2 linked regions of the Homo sapiens genome follow. The protein of the gene in region 1 purifies or fractionates together with the protein of each later gene. This does not show direct contact. Each region holds a gene or a part of one and is shown on either strand. Other genes may lie near its edges. The genes, in order: SNAI3 and TJP2.

Region 1 (8,528 bases):
TCTGCCGCAGGCCCAAGGGCTCCCCTCAGCACCGGTCACTCTCCCTTGCCTGTGCTGAGGCATTGTGCAGTTTCATGTGTCTTACGGTTGGTGTGGGTAGGGACTGTTCTAACGGGCAGCACAGCCAAGCCTGCAGCCTGGGCACCAGGAGGACACCACGCTCAACCGCCCATGTCAGGGGCCAGAGATGAGCACTTAGGGGCGTATCTCCCACCCAGGAGCCTGGGCTGCCCGCACTCCCTGCACTTCCTTTAATCAGACCATTCAGGCATTTGCTTGTGAACCTGCAGTGACCACTCCCCATTCCCTGTGCATACGGCCCGTTACCACACACTGTCTTCTCTCTGCCTGACTCTTCACTTCTGCCCTGTGGGATCTGGGGACGGAGGATGGCCCTTCCCACTCCTGGCGCCCTCCCTGCCCAGGACCTGTGAGTAGTAAGTCTTTGAACATGTTTCCTACTGCAGTGGGGACTGAATTTGCACCTTCCACAAGGAAGAACCAGGGGCTGCCCAGGCTGGGTTTTCTCGGGGACGTGGGGGACAGAGGGCAGGCTCCCAACACCAGAGCGATGGTCAGGCAGGCATAACCTGGACGTGAATCAGACAGGAGCCACGGGGCGTCTGCCAGTGTGAGCAAGTTTCCTGGGGGGACTCATGGTTGCAGGTCAGACAACTAGGCATTAGGCCATCTGCCAGGCAAACGACACATCCCGGGAAAGGCACACGGCAAATACCATGTCCATCCCCTTCATCTCCCAAGAGCACAGGGCTGCCAGCCACCTGGCACTGGCACTGAAAGCCACTTTCGCTGGGGGCTCTGAAAACAACCCTGTCTGCCTCTCAGAACCCCCATATCACACAGGATGTGTCCACTGAACCCCAGCTTAAGAACCACCCTTCCTGGCCAGGTGCGGTGGCTCACGCCTGTAATCCCAGCACTTTGGGAGGCCAAGGCAGGTGGATCACCTGAAGTCAGGAGTTGGAGACCAGCCTGGCCAACATGGTGAAATCTTGTCTCTACTAAAAATACAAAAATTAGCCAGGCATGGTGGCACATGCCTGTAATCCGAGCTACTTGGGAGGCTGAGGCAGGAGAATCACTTGAACCCAGGAGGTGGAGGTTACGGTGAGCAAAGATCACGCCACTGCACTCCAGTCTGGGTGACAGAGTGAGACTCCGTCTTAAAAACAAAAAAAAAAACAAAAAAACAAAAAACCACCCTCCCTCTGACAATCCGGCCCTCAGACGGTGGTGTGGGCAGCCATAAACAGTAGTGAGTTCCCCTTCACGGAGGGGGACCAAGCACACAGTGGCGCCCGGTCTGGCTGGATGTTGAGATTTCAAGCACTGGGTTCAAGTTTCCATGGGCCCATGACCTTGGGCCGCATGGGATTGTCCCTCGATGTCTGCCTCCGCATGGGATGTCTGCCTCGATGAACTGCCTTTGCTCCTACAAGAGGGGCCATCTCTCTGAGTCCAAGGACAAGCAAGGCCCAGCTGCCAGACTCTCCTTTGAGGGCCTGGGTCTTCACCTGAGTGTCTCCACTCGAGACAGACAGGGCCTACGTGCCCCCAGAGCATGGGGCAGGGCCTCTAGAAAGGCCACACTGTCTGCAAGCTCCTGCTTCTCTTCCATCCAGTTCAACAAGCCCTGCTGAACCCCCAGCATGCACCTGACCACAGGCGGGCATTGTGCAGGTAGCAAGGGCTGAGCCCCTCCTGGTCTAGCTCTCAAGGACTGTGTTCTAATTCGGAGTGAGGGTTTCCAAGGTTTGGGTCATAAAGCCCTATGAGTAAAAAACGAGCAGTGGCTCCCGCCTGTAATCCCAGCACTTTGGGAGGCCAAGGCAGGAGGATCACTTGAGATCAGGAGTTCAAGACTAGCCTAGCCAACATGGTGAAACCCAGTCTCTAGTAAAAATACAAAAATTAGCCTGGCATGGTGGTGCACACGTGTAATCCCAGCTACTTGGGAGGCTGAGGCAGGAGAATTGCTTGAACCTGGGAGGCGGAGGTTGGAGTGAGACTCCATCTTAAAACAAACAACAGTCAATGGTGACAGAGATGTCTACCGTGTTGGATACCTGTGTGCACATCTCCAGACACTATGGTTACAGTCACTGTAAAACCAGAAAGGCAGGAAGACATACGTGTAGGAAGGATGAAAATGTCAACATAAATGGAACTCTAACCGTTTTTGCCCTGACCGGCAATTCTTGGGGTGGGCTACCCACTGGAAAACCGCTCTTGGGTGTCGGATGGAGGCAGATGGGAGGGGCCAGGCTGCCGGGCCCAGCACAAGTCATCATCCTGATGTCCTAGATGTCCAGGGAAGGGGGCAAGGACCTGGGTCGCCTGCTGCAGTTCAGGAGGGCGGGTCTAGCAGGCTGTGGGCCGTGGGTTTCCCCACTCAGGGGCACGTCAGTTTAACCCCCAGAGCCAAGCTGCCGGCAGTGAGGAACGGAAGACACGGAAAGGATGGAGACGGCCGCCCTCCCCCAATCCCCACCCCCGAGGCTGCACCTGTGGGAAGGGGGACGCTGATGTTTCCCTCTGTGGGGCCTTCTTGGGTCCAGCCTGGACACCGCCCTGTGCATCACAGCTGAAGAGTGAGTCTGCAGCCGACTTGAGTGTCCCTGGGGGGCAAGTTGTTGCGGCAGCCCTGGGACCCCACCCCAAAGGTGCTCGCAGGCCCTCTAGGGCGTTCCCGGGATGAGATCAGCCATTCTCCTCGGGAGGGCTACAGCAGCCCTGAGTAACACCAGGCTCTAGCTGGGATTAGGAGATAAGCTTGCTGGGGCTTGGCGGGTGGCCACACAACGGGTAGGTGGGCGGGGAGGGACGGTGTGGGTGGAGGCTTGGCTCAGGTATCTGCAAGCGTTATCTGTGTCTGCGAGGGAGAGAGAGAAGGAAGGGAGGCTATAAATAGAAACCTTTCCAGGCGAGGAACAGGTGAATAAGCAGAAGGCAGGCATGTGTCCTCTGAAATCTACACTCCCGGCGTGGTGGTGCCAGGCCATGCTTGCAGGAGAGGCGGGCACCTTCTTCCAGGGGCACCTCCACCTGTCCTTCCACTCCCCCTCACCAAGTGGCAGACAAGCTGGAGTGTGGCTGGGTCCCAATCCCACTGTGTCCTAACCTCTCACAGCCTTGGTCTTCTTTTTTGTTTTTTTTTAATTTTTTGAGACAGGGTCTTGCTCTGTTGTCCAGACTGGAGTGCAGTGGGGTCATCATAGCTCACAGCAGCCTCCACCTCCTGGAGGCTACTGCAACAAGCAATCCTCCCTCCTCAGCGTCCTGAGTAGCTGGGACTGAAGATGGGTGTTGCCACGCCTGGCTAATTAAAATAATTTTTTTTTTTTTTTTTGTAGAGACGGGGTCTCATGTTGTTTTTCAGGCTGGTCTCAAACTCCTGGGCTCAAGCAGTCCTCTTGTCTCAGCCTCCCACAGTGCTGGGATTACAGGCGTGAGCTGCTGAGCCCAGACTCACAGCCTAGTTTTTTTTCATTGGCAAAGTGGGGCTGATACTAGCCCAGCTTTTCACACCCTGGACGTGTGATGTGGGACGTGGGATGCTGGTGTGGCACGGCCCTCCTCCCTGCTGTCTGTCCCTCAGAGCTTCCATGGACTCACCACCCCCCACCTTCTCCACCCCCGGCCCACAGGGGGCAAAGGCCACCCAGCTCTGAGGTGGAAGCCCTGCTGGGGAGGCAGGCCGGCGGCACAGCCAGGGACACCCTGTGTGCACGCCAGCCCAGAGACGGCCCCACCTGGCCCCCAACGTTATGAAATGTCCATGTCAAAAGAGACCCAGACACTGGACACAGCGGCTCCCAGCTTTTTATGACCCTGAGGGCTCTACAGGACCACAAAGGAGGGAAACGGATTGCCCAGGTCACACGTGCAGCTGTTGCAGAATTCACGTGATTCACCGGTTTTATTAAACTTCCCATAACCATGTCTGACCCCCTGGGAATTCCAGAATTCCAGGCCAAGTCCTCCGTCCCCCAAAAAACAGCTTTCTGGAGGCACTGGACAAACTCCTAAAGGGCTGACTCCAGTGGGGGAAGCCTTCGGAGACTGCAGCCCATCCAGAAAGGACCACTGTCTCCAGGCCACCGGTCCCGGGCCTGTTCCAGAGCCGCCAGTAGGGCTGGTCACTAGGGTCAGCTTCGTTTCGCCTGGGCTCTCCCCATCAATCCTGTCCTGTGAGTTTGCAGAAGGGATGGGGAGGCGAGGCCAGGCCGCAGAGTGAGCGTCATTCTCCGCAGCAAGGGTTCTCCAAGGACCGCGCTCGGCCGACGCTTCCACATTCTGTGGAAGAGATTCTCGCTCGGTTTCCACACAGCTTTGAACTCTGCCCTTCACTCACGGCGAGTGGGTGGCCAGGCCCGACGGGTCGGTGTGTGACTCGGCGGCGCGCACGCCAGAGAATTCCCGTGGGGAGGACACCGGCGGCCACGCGCTCCCCGCCCCGTCCCGCCCGCGCACCTGTCCTGGGCGTGTTGCCCGAGACCCCGCCTCGCCCTCAGTTCCGCCCCCGTGGCCCCGCCCCACTCGCGCCGGGCGCTGGTTGGCGGAGGCGGCGCGCTATGCTAATGAGCCTGACCCCTTCAAGCGCCGGCGGACGCAGCAGTCCGGACCCAGGCGCGCCCCTCCCGCCCCAGCCCACCCCGGCCTGCCGCCCGGGAGGGGAACATGCCGCGCTCCTTCCTGGTGAAAACGCACTCCAGCCACAGGGTCCCCAACTACCGGCGGCTGGAGACGCAGAGAGGTACTGACTACCCGATCCCCGAGCCCCTGCCGGGACTCGACCCTGAGGGGCGGGAGAGAGAGAGAGGCCCCTGGGAGCGGGGGCTGGGGAGACACCTGTCCCAGGTGGGAGGAGAAGGAGCCAGCGCCTCTGCGCAGCGGCTGCGGCTGCAGGGAGGGAGGTGGCCCACGGGCGCCTCCACTTCAGGGCACTGAGCCCCGCCTCCGGCAGGGCGGGCGGGATTCTCTCCCAACTTGGAGAAGTTTTCTAAGTTTTCTAAGCCCCCAAGTCTCCCTGGAACTCACCCCTGATATACAGCCGCCCGTCCCAACCACTACAGCCCCAGCTAAAGGCACCCTGGAGTCATCTTCCTGGCGCACACGTTTGGGAGGGGTCGCGGGGTGGTGGGTGGGAGGGAAGGAGGGCCGTCTGGGGCGGCCCGGCTCAGGGACCCCCGGAGCATGCTGACTGGGGGTGTAAGCACAGGGGATGGTGAGAAGGACACATGGGCTCTTTCTGGTGCAAAGGCACTGCCCCTCCTGCATTCAGTTCAGGTGAGCCTCCGCCCGTGGTCTCCCTCCCTCCCCCACCTCCCTTCACCCCAGAAGCCCTCCTGCTCACCCCGGCAGGCTTGCCTGGGCAGGCTGGGCTAAAGGGCTGCAATCCTCCACACACCGGCTAGGCTGGGGAGATGGGTGCCCAGCAACCGGGCTGCCCGTTCATTCCCACTGCCTGCTAGGCTTAGGGACACGAGAGAAGAGGACTCTGTCCTTCAGAGGACAGCCTGCCACACGGGCGGTGAGAGCAGTCCCCACCTGGCTTGGCAGCTTCTTGGGACAAAGGCCCACTGAGGGGCGCCGGCGGACGCGGTGGTCGGGACTCACGCTCTGTGGCCGGTGGGGGAGAGCAGGAAGGGCGCTGTTGGGGCTGTGGCCCCCAGCAACACCGCCAAGAGGCCTTTATCCCAGCTCAGAACCCAGAGTTGGGGATGGGGGGGATCCCACCTGGACCCACACCCGAGGCCCGGGCTGCCACCAGGGGGTGCCAGCTAGGACCATGCTTTTCAAATGTGCATTTTGAAATCAGTTTCATCAGTCACCCCCAGCAATTTTGTAAAATAAAATAGAGCAGAAACTGCCGGAGTGCCTGGCTCATGGTGAAGGACACTGGCTTCTGTTATGTGTATGTGGATGCGCATGTGACTACACATGTGTGCGGAATTTACATGGGTAATAGTTGCAAGTTTCAAAGTGTTGCTTAGGGTCCATCCCAGTGTGCAAATCTGGGTAGCTGTGCTGGGCCCAGTGGGCAACTGTCGTGAGTAGCCGTGCTGCCCCGCAGTGCTCTCTGCTCCCCGCCCCCGCTCCCCTCCTCACTGTAGCCCCAGCTGCCTGGCTTTCTGACAGCCAGGGGGCCCTGGCAACTTTCTGCCAAGATGTTACCCCAGGATAGACCTGAGGTGCTGGGATTTGGGGCCCCTCAATCTCTCCTTTTAAATAAATGGCTCCTATGGCTCCCCAGGGAACCCCTGAAGCCAGCAAGGTACTTAAACAGTCTCTTCAGCTGGGTGTGGCGGCTCATGCCTGTAATCTCAGCACTTTGGGAGGTCGAGGACGGCAGATCACTTGAGGTCAGGAGTTCGAAACCAGCCAACATGGCGAAACCCCGTCCCTACTAAAAATACAGAAGTTACCCCGGTGTGCTGGCGGGTGCCTATAATCCCAGATACTCAGGAGGCTGAGGTAGGAGAATCACTTGAACCCGGGAGATGGAGGTTGCAGTGAGCCACGATCGCGCCCCTGCACTCCAACCTGGGCGACAGAGCGAGACTCTGTCTCAAAACAAAACAAAACAAAACAGTGTCTTCTCCCCAGGATCTGGACCGCAGCATGAATAAAAAGGCAAGCAAAACCCAGAGAGTATGGGGAAAGCATTTAAAATCCCAGCAGAAACACATGGTCAGCCTGACGGGGCGAGACTGTCTCTTGCCCCGTCCTGCCTCTGGGCTCAGCCACTGGGCCCACAAACAGGGTCCTGGCTCTGTGACAATACCTGGAGGCAGAAAGGTGGCCATGTCTTAGAGATGGAAAAAAGAAATGGTGACTTTTTCCTGCAGAGAGGCCCCAGCAAAGCCGGGAAACCTGGGGCTCCCCCAGTGCTGTCTCCCCAGAACTCTCTTGGACGCTGCCTCTTAGCCTGTCATTGCCGTCACTTCTGGGTGGACAGAAACCTGATGACTCTGTAATTAGGAAAACTGAGGGTGGGAGGAGGTCAGGTCAGGAGAGAGTGGCAGATGGGAGGCGTTCCTTTGAATCCCCTATTCCTCCTCATCCTCACAGCACTGGTTATTGTCAATTTTTTTCAGTTCTACTGGGTGTGAGCATCTCATTGTGATTGCGATTTGGGCTTCCCTGATGGCATTGAGCATCTTTGCATGTGTTCATTGGCCATTTGTGTATCGTCTTTGGAGAAATAGTTATTCAGATCCCTTGCCCAGGCCGGGCGCAGTGGCTCACACTTGTAATCCAGCACTTTGGGAGGCTGAGGTGGGCAGATCCCTTGAGGCCAGGAGTTTGAGACGAGTCTGGCCAATGTGGCAAAAACCCGCGTCTACTAAACATACAAAAATTAGCTGGGCATGGTGGCAGGTGTCTGTAATCCCAGCTATCAGGAGGCTGAGGCAGGAGAATTGTTTGAACCTGGGAGGCGGAGGTTGCAGTGAGCTGAGATCACGCCATTGCACTCCAGCCTGGGCGACAAGAGTGAGACTCCAGCTCAAAAAAAAAAAAAAAAAAAAAGGCCAGGCGCAGTGGCTTATGCCTGTAATCCCAGTACTTTGGGAGGCTGATGCAGGCGGATCACAAGGTCAAGAGTTCGAGACCAGCCTGGCCAACATGGTAAAACCCTGTCTCTACTAAGAATACAAAAATAAGCCAGGCGTGGTGGCGCATGCCTGTAATCCCAGCTACTTGGGAGGCTGAGGCAGGAGAATTGCTTGAACCAGGGAGGCAGAGGTTGCAATGAGCCCAGATCGTGCCATCGCACTCCAGCCTGGGTGACAGAGCGAGACTCCATCTGGGGGAAAAAAAAAATTAGCCAGGCATGGTGGCGCACACCTGTAGTCCCAGCTACTTGGGAGTCTGAGGCAGGAAAATCATTTGGACCTGGGAGGTGGAGGTTGCAGGTTGCAGTGAGCCGATTTCACGCCACTGCACTCCAGCCTGGGAGACAGAGCAAGACTCTGTCTCAAAAAAAAAAAAAAAAAAAGGGTGGGGGGCCAGGTGCGGTGGCTCACGCCTGTGATCCCAGCACTTTGGGAGGCCAAGGAGGGTGGATCACGAGGTCAGGAGATCGAGACCATTCTGGCTAACACAGTGAAATCCTGTCTCTACAAAAAAAATACAAAAAAATTAGCCGGGCGTGGTGGCAGGCGCCTGTACTCCCAGCTACGCAGGAGGCTGAGGCAGGAGAATCGCTTGAACCCAGGAGGTGGAGGTTACAGTGAACCGAGATCACGCCACTGCACTCCAGCCTGGCAACAGAGCGAGACTCCGTCTCTAAAAAAAAAAAAAAAAAAAAAAAAAAAAAATCCCTTGCCCATATTAAAATTGTATTATTTGTCTTTTTATTGTCGACTTGCTAACATCCTTTATATGTTCTAGTGTTCTAGATGCTATTCCTGATCAGAAGTCTGATTTGCAAATATTTTCTCCTATTCTATGGGTTGTCTGTCTCTACCCAAAGCCTCAGCATGGAGGTAGAAACAGAGCCA
Region 2 (8,364 bases), on another chromosome or scaffold:
AGCCTTTTTTCACTTTAATTTGTTTCAATGCTCCTTTTCATGGCCAAATTGAATATATAAAGTGAGCCTTATACACATGCTAATCACTTTATTCTGTTGTGGGGTTTTTAAGTGTGGCTCTTTGTTTTGCAAAGGTGACAGCCTAATGTGTGGAATGAAGACGTGAGCCAGATATGTATATTCCTTATCAATAATGGAGATATATGTGCTTTTGCTCATTCCTGCTTGGCTGAACTACCTCTTTGCTTGTTATTTATCTGATAGAGTTGTCATTTCTCTTTCAGAAACTTTTATGGGATGGAAAAGAGAAAAAAGACTTCTAAGTTTGGTTATTAACCATGTAGATTTTTAAAATATAACTACCATGTGTGCTTTAATTTTGACCATTATAGTTTTTGGCTATCGAAGACTGTGATCGAGACTGATCTAAGGTTAATCTCTTGTGGCCAGAGAGATGGACTGAAGGACTCCCAAGGTCCTCCCACAGCCTTGTGGCCCTGTCTTATTTAAGTAAACAAATACAAGCATGTATAGTACATGTGAAAATATACATATGGCTATATGTAGATACAGATGTAGATAAACAAATGGCACAAGAAAGGATACCAAAATGGGATGATTCCTAATTGGGGGACAGAGAGGTACAAATGACAGTACCTTAAATACTAAATACTGTTTCAAAGGAAAAATTAACTCAATTGCTTTAGCACATCACTTTATTTTAAAAGCACCAAATTAGTTTTAGTCTAATGCCGACTTTCACTTAATCATAAATTTTGGCCTTAATTAAGGCCCACCCAACTAAGGATAAGTTTCTTCTTTAATAAAGCATTACTCTTGTGATTAAAAGGATTCTGTAATTGTCAATGACTGAAGAAAATATTTCATAGGAATTTTATATCTTTATTTCTACAAAATATTATTAACATATCAGGTACTTTAATATGGTTTTTGCATTTTACTTATTTATAATTCTGTTTTAAAATAGGCTGAAAGATACAGAACTATGGGCCAGGCGTGGTGGCTCACGCATGTAATCCCAGCACTTTGGGAGGCCTAGGTGGGCGGATCACCTGAGGTCAAGAGTTCGAGACCAGCCTGGCCAACATGGTGAAACCTTGTCTCTACTGAAAATACAAAAAAAATTAGCTGGGTGTGGTGGCACATGCCTGTAGTCGCAGCTACTCAGGGAGGCTGAGGCAAAAGAATTGCTTGAACCCAGGAGGCGGAGGTTGCAGTGAGCCAAGATCGCGCCATTGCACTCCAGCCTGGGCGACAGAGGGAGACTACATCTCAAAAAAAAAAACCACATAGCACTATGATTTCAAAATGTCTTGTTCTTTGTGCTACATTTCAATTTTACTTGCTTTGTAACTGTAAGGCTGATGCTCTTTAATTTGATACATACCTTTCAATTTTATAAACACATGTTAAACACTTTTAGGTGATAGAAGCTATAGGAGAAGGGTAGAATTGGTCAGAGTCTTTATTTGCACACTTTTATTTGAACCAGTTTAAAATTAGTGTAAATGCTGGGCCAGCATGCTCAGTTGTCACAGACCCCAACACTCCCCATGCTTCATACTTGTGTATTACCTTCTTGGCCACCTCTGTGAGAGACTCACAGAAGGGAGATGGATAGAAACAACCACAAGAAATTCTATTGTGATCTGGTGACAGATCCTTGCTTCAATGGCTTAACCTCTAAGGTGCGGTTGGCAGTATGGGGAGGCAGGAAGGTATAGTGTGCAGGCCCATAGCAAGGTGCTGGGCGCGAGGACTTGAATAGTGACATTAAGGACTCATTTGCATCTTGGCTTTGCTCTGGACAGGCCCTGATGAAAACAAACAAAAGGGTCAGTGGCATCTTACTATAAACTTCTCTGTTTTTTCTTTCTTTCTTTCTTTCTTTCTTTCTTTTTTTTTTTTTTCTTTTTCTGTTTTTCCTTCCTAATAGGTGAACACACAGGATTTCAGAGGATTAGTGCGGGAGGATGCCGTTCTCTACCTGTTAGAAATCCCTAAAGGTGAAATGGTGACCATTTTAGCTCAGAGCCGAGCCGATGGTGAGCAAATTTGGTCATTTAGTTTAGTTGGGGTGGGGGTGGGGAGTGGGAAGGATGAGAGAGGTGTCTTGGTACCAGAATAGGCAAATCTGGGTATTAAAAAATTGAGATGGATCTCAACACCTAGTCCTTGGGCCCTAGGTGTGTGAAGAAAATGTGAGTGCCGTTTAACTTTCCATAAAAATGTTTTCTATGCATGCACTGAAATAATTTTACTAGTTGTGTCAATTTGGAATAAAACTGCCTTCCTGAACAGTGATGCAGCCTTATGTTCTGCCTGGAGTTATTAGTGAGTTTACATACGACATGTGCAAAGGCCATGGCTGCTGGCTGGTGCGCCTGTTACCCCTGTCCAGTCTGACAAGTTGTTTCACCTTTCCAGGCCTTGTTCCCATCTGTTAAGTGGGTGTTGAGAGTGTCCTCCTTGTCTGCTTCAGAGCTTGATTGGCAACTGTGTTAATGTTCTCCAGAGAAACAGAATGATAGGAGATATTGGAATCAATAGGAAAGAAAGAGATTTATTATAAAGAATTGGCTCACATAATTATGGAGACTGGCAAGTGCCAAGATCTGCAGTGAAAATGGGCAAGATAGAGACTCAGGAGAGCCAGTGATTTAGTTCTAGTCTCAGTCTGAAGGCCTGAGAACCAGGAGAGCCAATGGTGTAGTTCCAGTACCAAGTCAGGGAAAAGAGCTGATGTCGCCTTTTGAAGGCCATCAGGCAGGAAGAGTAGTTTCCTCCTAATTTTTTATTTATTTATTTATTTATTTATTTATTTATTATTATTTTTTTGAGACGGAGTCTGGCTTTGTCGCTGAGGCTGGAGTGCAGTGGAGCAATCTTGGCTCACTGCAAGCTCTGCCTCCCAGGTTCACCCCATTCTCCTGCCTCAGCCTCCCGAGTAGCTGGGACTACAGGCGCCCACCACCACGCCCGGCTAATTTTTTGTATTTTTAGTAGAGACGGGGTTTCACTGTGTTAGCCAGGATGGTCTCGATCTCCTGACCTTGTGATCCACCCACCTTGGCCTCCCAAAGTGCTGGGATTATAGGCATGAGCCACCACGCCCAGCCTAGTTTCCTCTTAATTGAGAAGGGGTCTGATTGTCATTCTCTTCAGGCCCTCAACTGATTGGATGAGGCCCACTCGCATTGGGGAGGGCGATCTTCTTTGCTCAGTCTACCCATTTATACGTGACTGTCATTCAAAAACACCCTCAGAGAAAGGCATAGAATAAAGTCTGACCAAATACCTGGTTATTTCATGGCCCAGTCAAGTTGAAATAAAATTAACCATTGCAGCAAGCCGTGAAGCTGGTTATTTGTCCTTGTTCCTGTTGGAGCTGTGACTCCCATAGGACTTGTGCACTGAATGGAAGGAAGGTAAAGGGGAGATCAGAGATAGGAGAAGCTGTGTTGAGTGTCTAGTACTGTAACTTGTACTAAGCTGAATGCAACAAACGATGCTTTTGTCTTTCAGTGTATAGAGACATCCTGGCTTGTGGCAGAGGGGATTCGTTTTTTATAAGAAGCCACTTTGAATGTGAGAAGGAAACTCCACAGAGCCTGGCCTTCACCAGAGGGGAGGTCTTCCGAGTGGTAGACACACTGTATGACGGCAAGCTGGGCAACTGGCTGGCTGTGAGGATTGGGAACGAGTTGGAGAAAGGCTTAATCCCCAACAAGAGCAGGTAACAGAGATCGCATTCTCACATACCCCTTTTAATCCTTCCCCCTGCAGAAAACTAGAGACCGCCCCCCTTCCCCCGTAAAAGGAAACCCCACATGATGAGTTCATTACTTGTCACCATCTATTTCTTGTTTATGGAGAGTGGCCTGAACTGTAAATAGCCACCAGCCAGTTTATTGTGAGTAAATTTAGCATCATGTGGTTGGTTGCTGAATGTGGCTGTTTGAACAACTTCCTAAGGAGCATCCACTGCCTTGTACCGTATACAAGAGATATACTGAATGGCCGTAGCACACCAGCACACCTCTTAGAGACAAGGTACCCTTGTCCGGTGCCCAGTCTCCATCCTTGGAGAGGTTTATGCACCCCAGTGAACACTTGGTGTTTGGCTGACAGTGCAGGAACCTAGAAAAGAGGCCTGTATTTGAGCAGGAGTTCCAGGTGTGTGTACTGTGTACCTGCATATCAGAATGGGCCAAATTTCACATGTTTATTGCTGAGCCACTTCTGGGAGATTTCACAGAGACCCAGCCTTTTTCTGCTCCCATTTGGAAGTGAAGGTCCCCACATTTCCCACCCTCTGAAACTTCTTCATTGTCAAGCGGAATCTTCTCTGAGCTCAGAAGTAAAATTGACTGGATTTGATTAATGAAATGCATGTTAGCTGCGTTTTCTGGCTTTAGAGATTTACTTCCCGTGGTTTCTTCTCAGAGCTGAACAAATGGCCAGTGTTCAAAATGCCCAGAGAGACAACGCTGGGGACCGGGCAGATTTCTGGAGAATGCGTGGCCAGAGGTCTGGGGTGAAGAAGAACCTGAGGAAAAGTCGGGAAGACCTCACAGCTGTTGTGTCTGTCAGCACCAAGTTCCCAGCTTATGAGAGGGTTTTGCTGCGAGAAGGTGAGGAAGTCACATGGGGCCTGGAAATGAACTGACTGGGCTCTGAGCCTGTTCACCTTTATTTTCAGACTGTATGGTCAAGTTCTAACTTATGTATGTCAGTTATGCCAAAGGCAGTTTATAGAGTTGAAATCAAATTCTAACAAGGAGCATGATTTATAAAAAGCTGTTTCAGTTCCTAAATTGAGGCTTATTTCTGCAACTTAAAAAATGTTTTAATACCACTGTTCAAGAGTTTCGGTATATTGGCTGGGCACTGTACCTTATGCCTATAATCGTAGCACTTTGGGAGGCCAAGGTGGGAGGATCACTTGAGCTCAGAAGTTCAAGACTAGCCTGGGCAATATAGTAAGACCTCATCTCTGCAAAAAATAAAAAAAGTTTCCATATATTATCAATGGGAAAGTTTGTGTTTAAAAATGGTGAGGAGCTAGGCAGTGTAGTCCCAGCTACTCAGGAGGCTTGAGCCTAGGAGTTTGAGTTTAGTCTGGGCAACATAGTGAGATCTTGTCTCTTAAAAAAAAATCTAGGTTAGCATGTGGTTGAATGAAAAGAAAAAAATTGTTTTAAATGGTGAGGATAGTGAAGGCATATTCTTCAGAACAGAGCCAAGCTGAATTGGGGAGAAACCACAGTTTCTTTCGTTTAGTTATGTTATCAAAAGCCCATACAATACTTTTACTGCTTATCATAACAGCTAGGCAAGTGTGTATGCTTTAATGGCCTTTCTTGTCATTTCAGCTGGTTTCAAGAGACCTGTGGTCTTATTCGGCCCCATAGCTGATATAGCAATGGAAAAATTGGCTAATGAGTTACCTGACTGGTTTCAAACTGCTAGTAAGTCTGTCAGTGTTTTTTTTTCCCCCAAATTTTTATTTTGAAAAATTTCTAACAGAGGAGTTGGAAGAATCATGAACACCCACGTACCCTTCACCTGGAATCACCAGTTGCTGACATTTTGTCACGCATTTTCTCTCACCCACTGCCTGCACCATAGACACACATACACACACACATACACATACTCTTTGAAAAATTTCTGCAGAATCATTTATAACACTTTATCCCTGAATACTTGTGTGAATCTCCTAAGAACAAGGACTTTCTCCCACATAACTGCAATACCATTATCACAGCCAAGAAAGGTAACATTGATGTGGTGTGATTTTGTATATAGTCCATTTTCCACGTTTTCTTAATTGTCCTAGTTATGTGCTTCATAGCTTTTTTTTAAATTCAGAATACAACCAAGGACCATTCATGACATTTGATTTTTATGTCTTTTTGTGATTTTTATGTCTTTCCAGTCCCCTCTTTTTTCTAAATAACTTTGTTACACTGATATTTTGAAGAATCCAAGCTAGTTGTCTCCTAGAATGCTTCCTGTTGGACTGGCCTAACCGTTTCTTCATGATTAGATTTCCACTAAGCAGGTTATGTGGGTCCTTCCCACTGAATCTTGTTAGGAGACACTTAATGTCAGGTGTGCCATCATTGCTTGATGCTAGGTGGGAGTATTTGGTTGTCACTGTTTTCTAAACAATTATTTAGCTTCCTGTTTTTGCTTTTGCAGAAACGGAACCAAAAGATGCAGGATCTGAGAAATCCACTGGAGTGGTCCGGTTAAATACCGTGAGGCAAATTATTGAACAGGTGAGAAAATTCATCCACAGACCGTGTTTTCAGAAAGAATTAGATTATGGTTTGCTGCAGTCACTTTTAGGATAGTATCTGTACTTTTAATCATTAAATGTTAATAATAAAAAATTGGCCGGGCACAGTGGCTTACACCTGTAATCCCAACACTTTGAGAGGCTGAGGCGGGTGGATCACCTGAGGTCAGGAGTTCGAGACCAGCCTGGCCAACATGGTGAAACCCTGTCTCTACTAAAAATATAAAAAATTAGCCGGGCACAGTGGCAGGTACCTGTAGTCCCAGCCACTCAGGAGGCTGAGGCAGGAGAATCGCTTGAACTCAGGAGGCGGAGTTTGCAGTGAGCGGAGATTGCACCATTGCACTCCAGCCTGGGCGACGAGTGAAACTCCATCTCAAAAAAATATATATATAATGTAAATGCAAACCGTTTCACTGTGTGGAAACCAGTCACTGTTGGCAGTGAGCGGAGATTGCACCATTGCACTCCAGCCTGGGCGACAAGAGTGAAACTCCATCTCAAAAAAATATATATATAATGTAAATGCAAACCATTTCACTGTGTGGAAACCAGTCACTGTTACTGTTCTCTGGCAGTAACATACTGTTTTTTTTTCCAGAGTTCCCAGCATTATACCAAATAATGTGTTAATTCATTTTATCAGAAGTTCTAACACATTGGTAATATTGAAGTGGGCATTAGGTAGAAGGAAATGTGTTCTGCTTCTTGATTTAAATTTACAAGATAGGTGGCTCATGCCTGTAATCCCAGCACTTTGGGAGGCAGAGGCGGGCGGATCACCTGAAGTCAGGAGTTTGGGACCAGCCTGGCCAACATGGTGAAACCCTGTCTCTACTAAAAATACAAAAATTAGCTGGCCATGGTGGTGGCGGGCACCTGTAATCCCAGCTACTCAGGAGGCTGAGACAGGATAATTGCTTGAACCCGGGAGGCGGAGGTCGCAGTGAGCCAAGTTTGTGCCACTGCACTCCAGCCTGGGCAACAGAGCAAGAATCTATCCCAAATAAGTAAACAAACAAACAAACAAGATATATCTCATACAGCCTTTACTTATTAAAACAAAGTATTTGATGCTATATTACTTTATATATCCATTTCTCTAACTTTTCCCCTTTTGTAAACAGGATAAGCATGCACTACTGGATGTGACTCCGAAAGCTGTGGACCTGTTGAATTACACCCAGTGGTTCCCAATTGTGATTTTTTTCAACCCAGACTCCAGACAAGGTGTCAAAACCATGAGACAAAGGTTAAATCCAACGTCCAACAAAAGTTCTCGAAAGTTATTTGATCAAGCCAACAAGCTTAAAAAAACGTGTGCACACCTTTTTACAGGTAAGTGAAATGTAAATGTAGTCCCTTTGCTAAAAAATGAGAAATAAAGAATTGAAGAGTAGAAGAAATAATTAATTAATCTGAATGGAGAATTTGAAATTGTGTTCATGACTCCTTGAAAAATAGTTAATCCTATAAAATGGGATATTAGGCCAATGGCATTTATATATTGAACTTTGTAATTTTGTCTATTTGAAAATGACCATAAAGATCCATGATGTGGTAATAATTAGCTATTTTGATGAAGTTCATATTTTCCTGTGAGACTATAAGGCTAGTGATTGAGCCAGGCCAAACACCTATGTCTCTCTAGAGATTGTGTCATTGTTCTCTACTCACCATCAATACATGCATTAACTTACAAAGCGAAAGGAACTTGGTTTCATTATTTAAAAATATTCCTGTCCAGCATGGTGGATAACACTTGTAATCCTCCCACTTTGGGAGGCCAAGGCAGGAGGATCACTTGAGCCCAGGGGTTGGAGACCAGCCTGAGCAACATGGTGAGATCCTGTCTCTACTAAAAGGCCTAGCATGGTGGTGCATGCCTATGGCTGAGGTTGGAGGATCGCTTGAGCCAGGAATTCAAAGCTGCAGTGAGCTGTGATGGCACTGCTGCACTCCTGCCTGGTGACTGAGTGAGACCCTGTCTCTTCAAAGAAAAAAAAAAAAATCTAGAAACTTGGACACTCTGAATA

The links.
Region 2: the proteins of SNAI3 (region 1) and TJP2 purify together in Homo sapiens (affinity purification with mass spectrometry; 3 studies listed by BioGRID and IntAct, with this or other methods). This does not show direct contact.

The regions. Positions count from the first base shown.
Region 1 is NC_000016.10:88,682,580-88,691,107, reverse strand, and holds the start of SNAI3 (zinc finger protein SNAI3), read left to right. Parts: upstream 1-4,600; 5' UTR 4,601-4,701; coding exon 4,702-4,777; intron 4,778-8,528. UniProt on the Homo sapiens protein: Seems to inhibit myoblast differentiation. Transcriptional repressor of E-box-dependent transactivation of downstream myogenic bHLHs genes. Binds preferentially to the canonical E-box sequences 5'-CAGGTG-3' and 5'-CACCTG-3'.
Region 2 is NC_000009.12:69,232,482-69,240,845, forward strand, and holds part of TJP2 (tight junction protein 2), read left to right. Parts: intron 1-1,957; coding exon 1,958-2,066; intron 2,067-3,546; coding exon 3,547-3,757; intron 3,758-4,467; coding exon 4,468-4,655; intron 4,656-5,396; coding exon 5,397-5,492; intron 5,493-6,228; coding exon 6,229-6,308; intron 6,309-7,455; coding exon 7,456-7,666; intron 7,667-8,364. UniProt on the Homo sapiens protein: Plays a role in tight junctions and adherens junctions. Acts as a positive regulator of RANKL-induced osteoclast differentiation, potentially via mediating downstream transcriptional activity.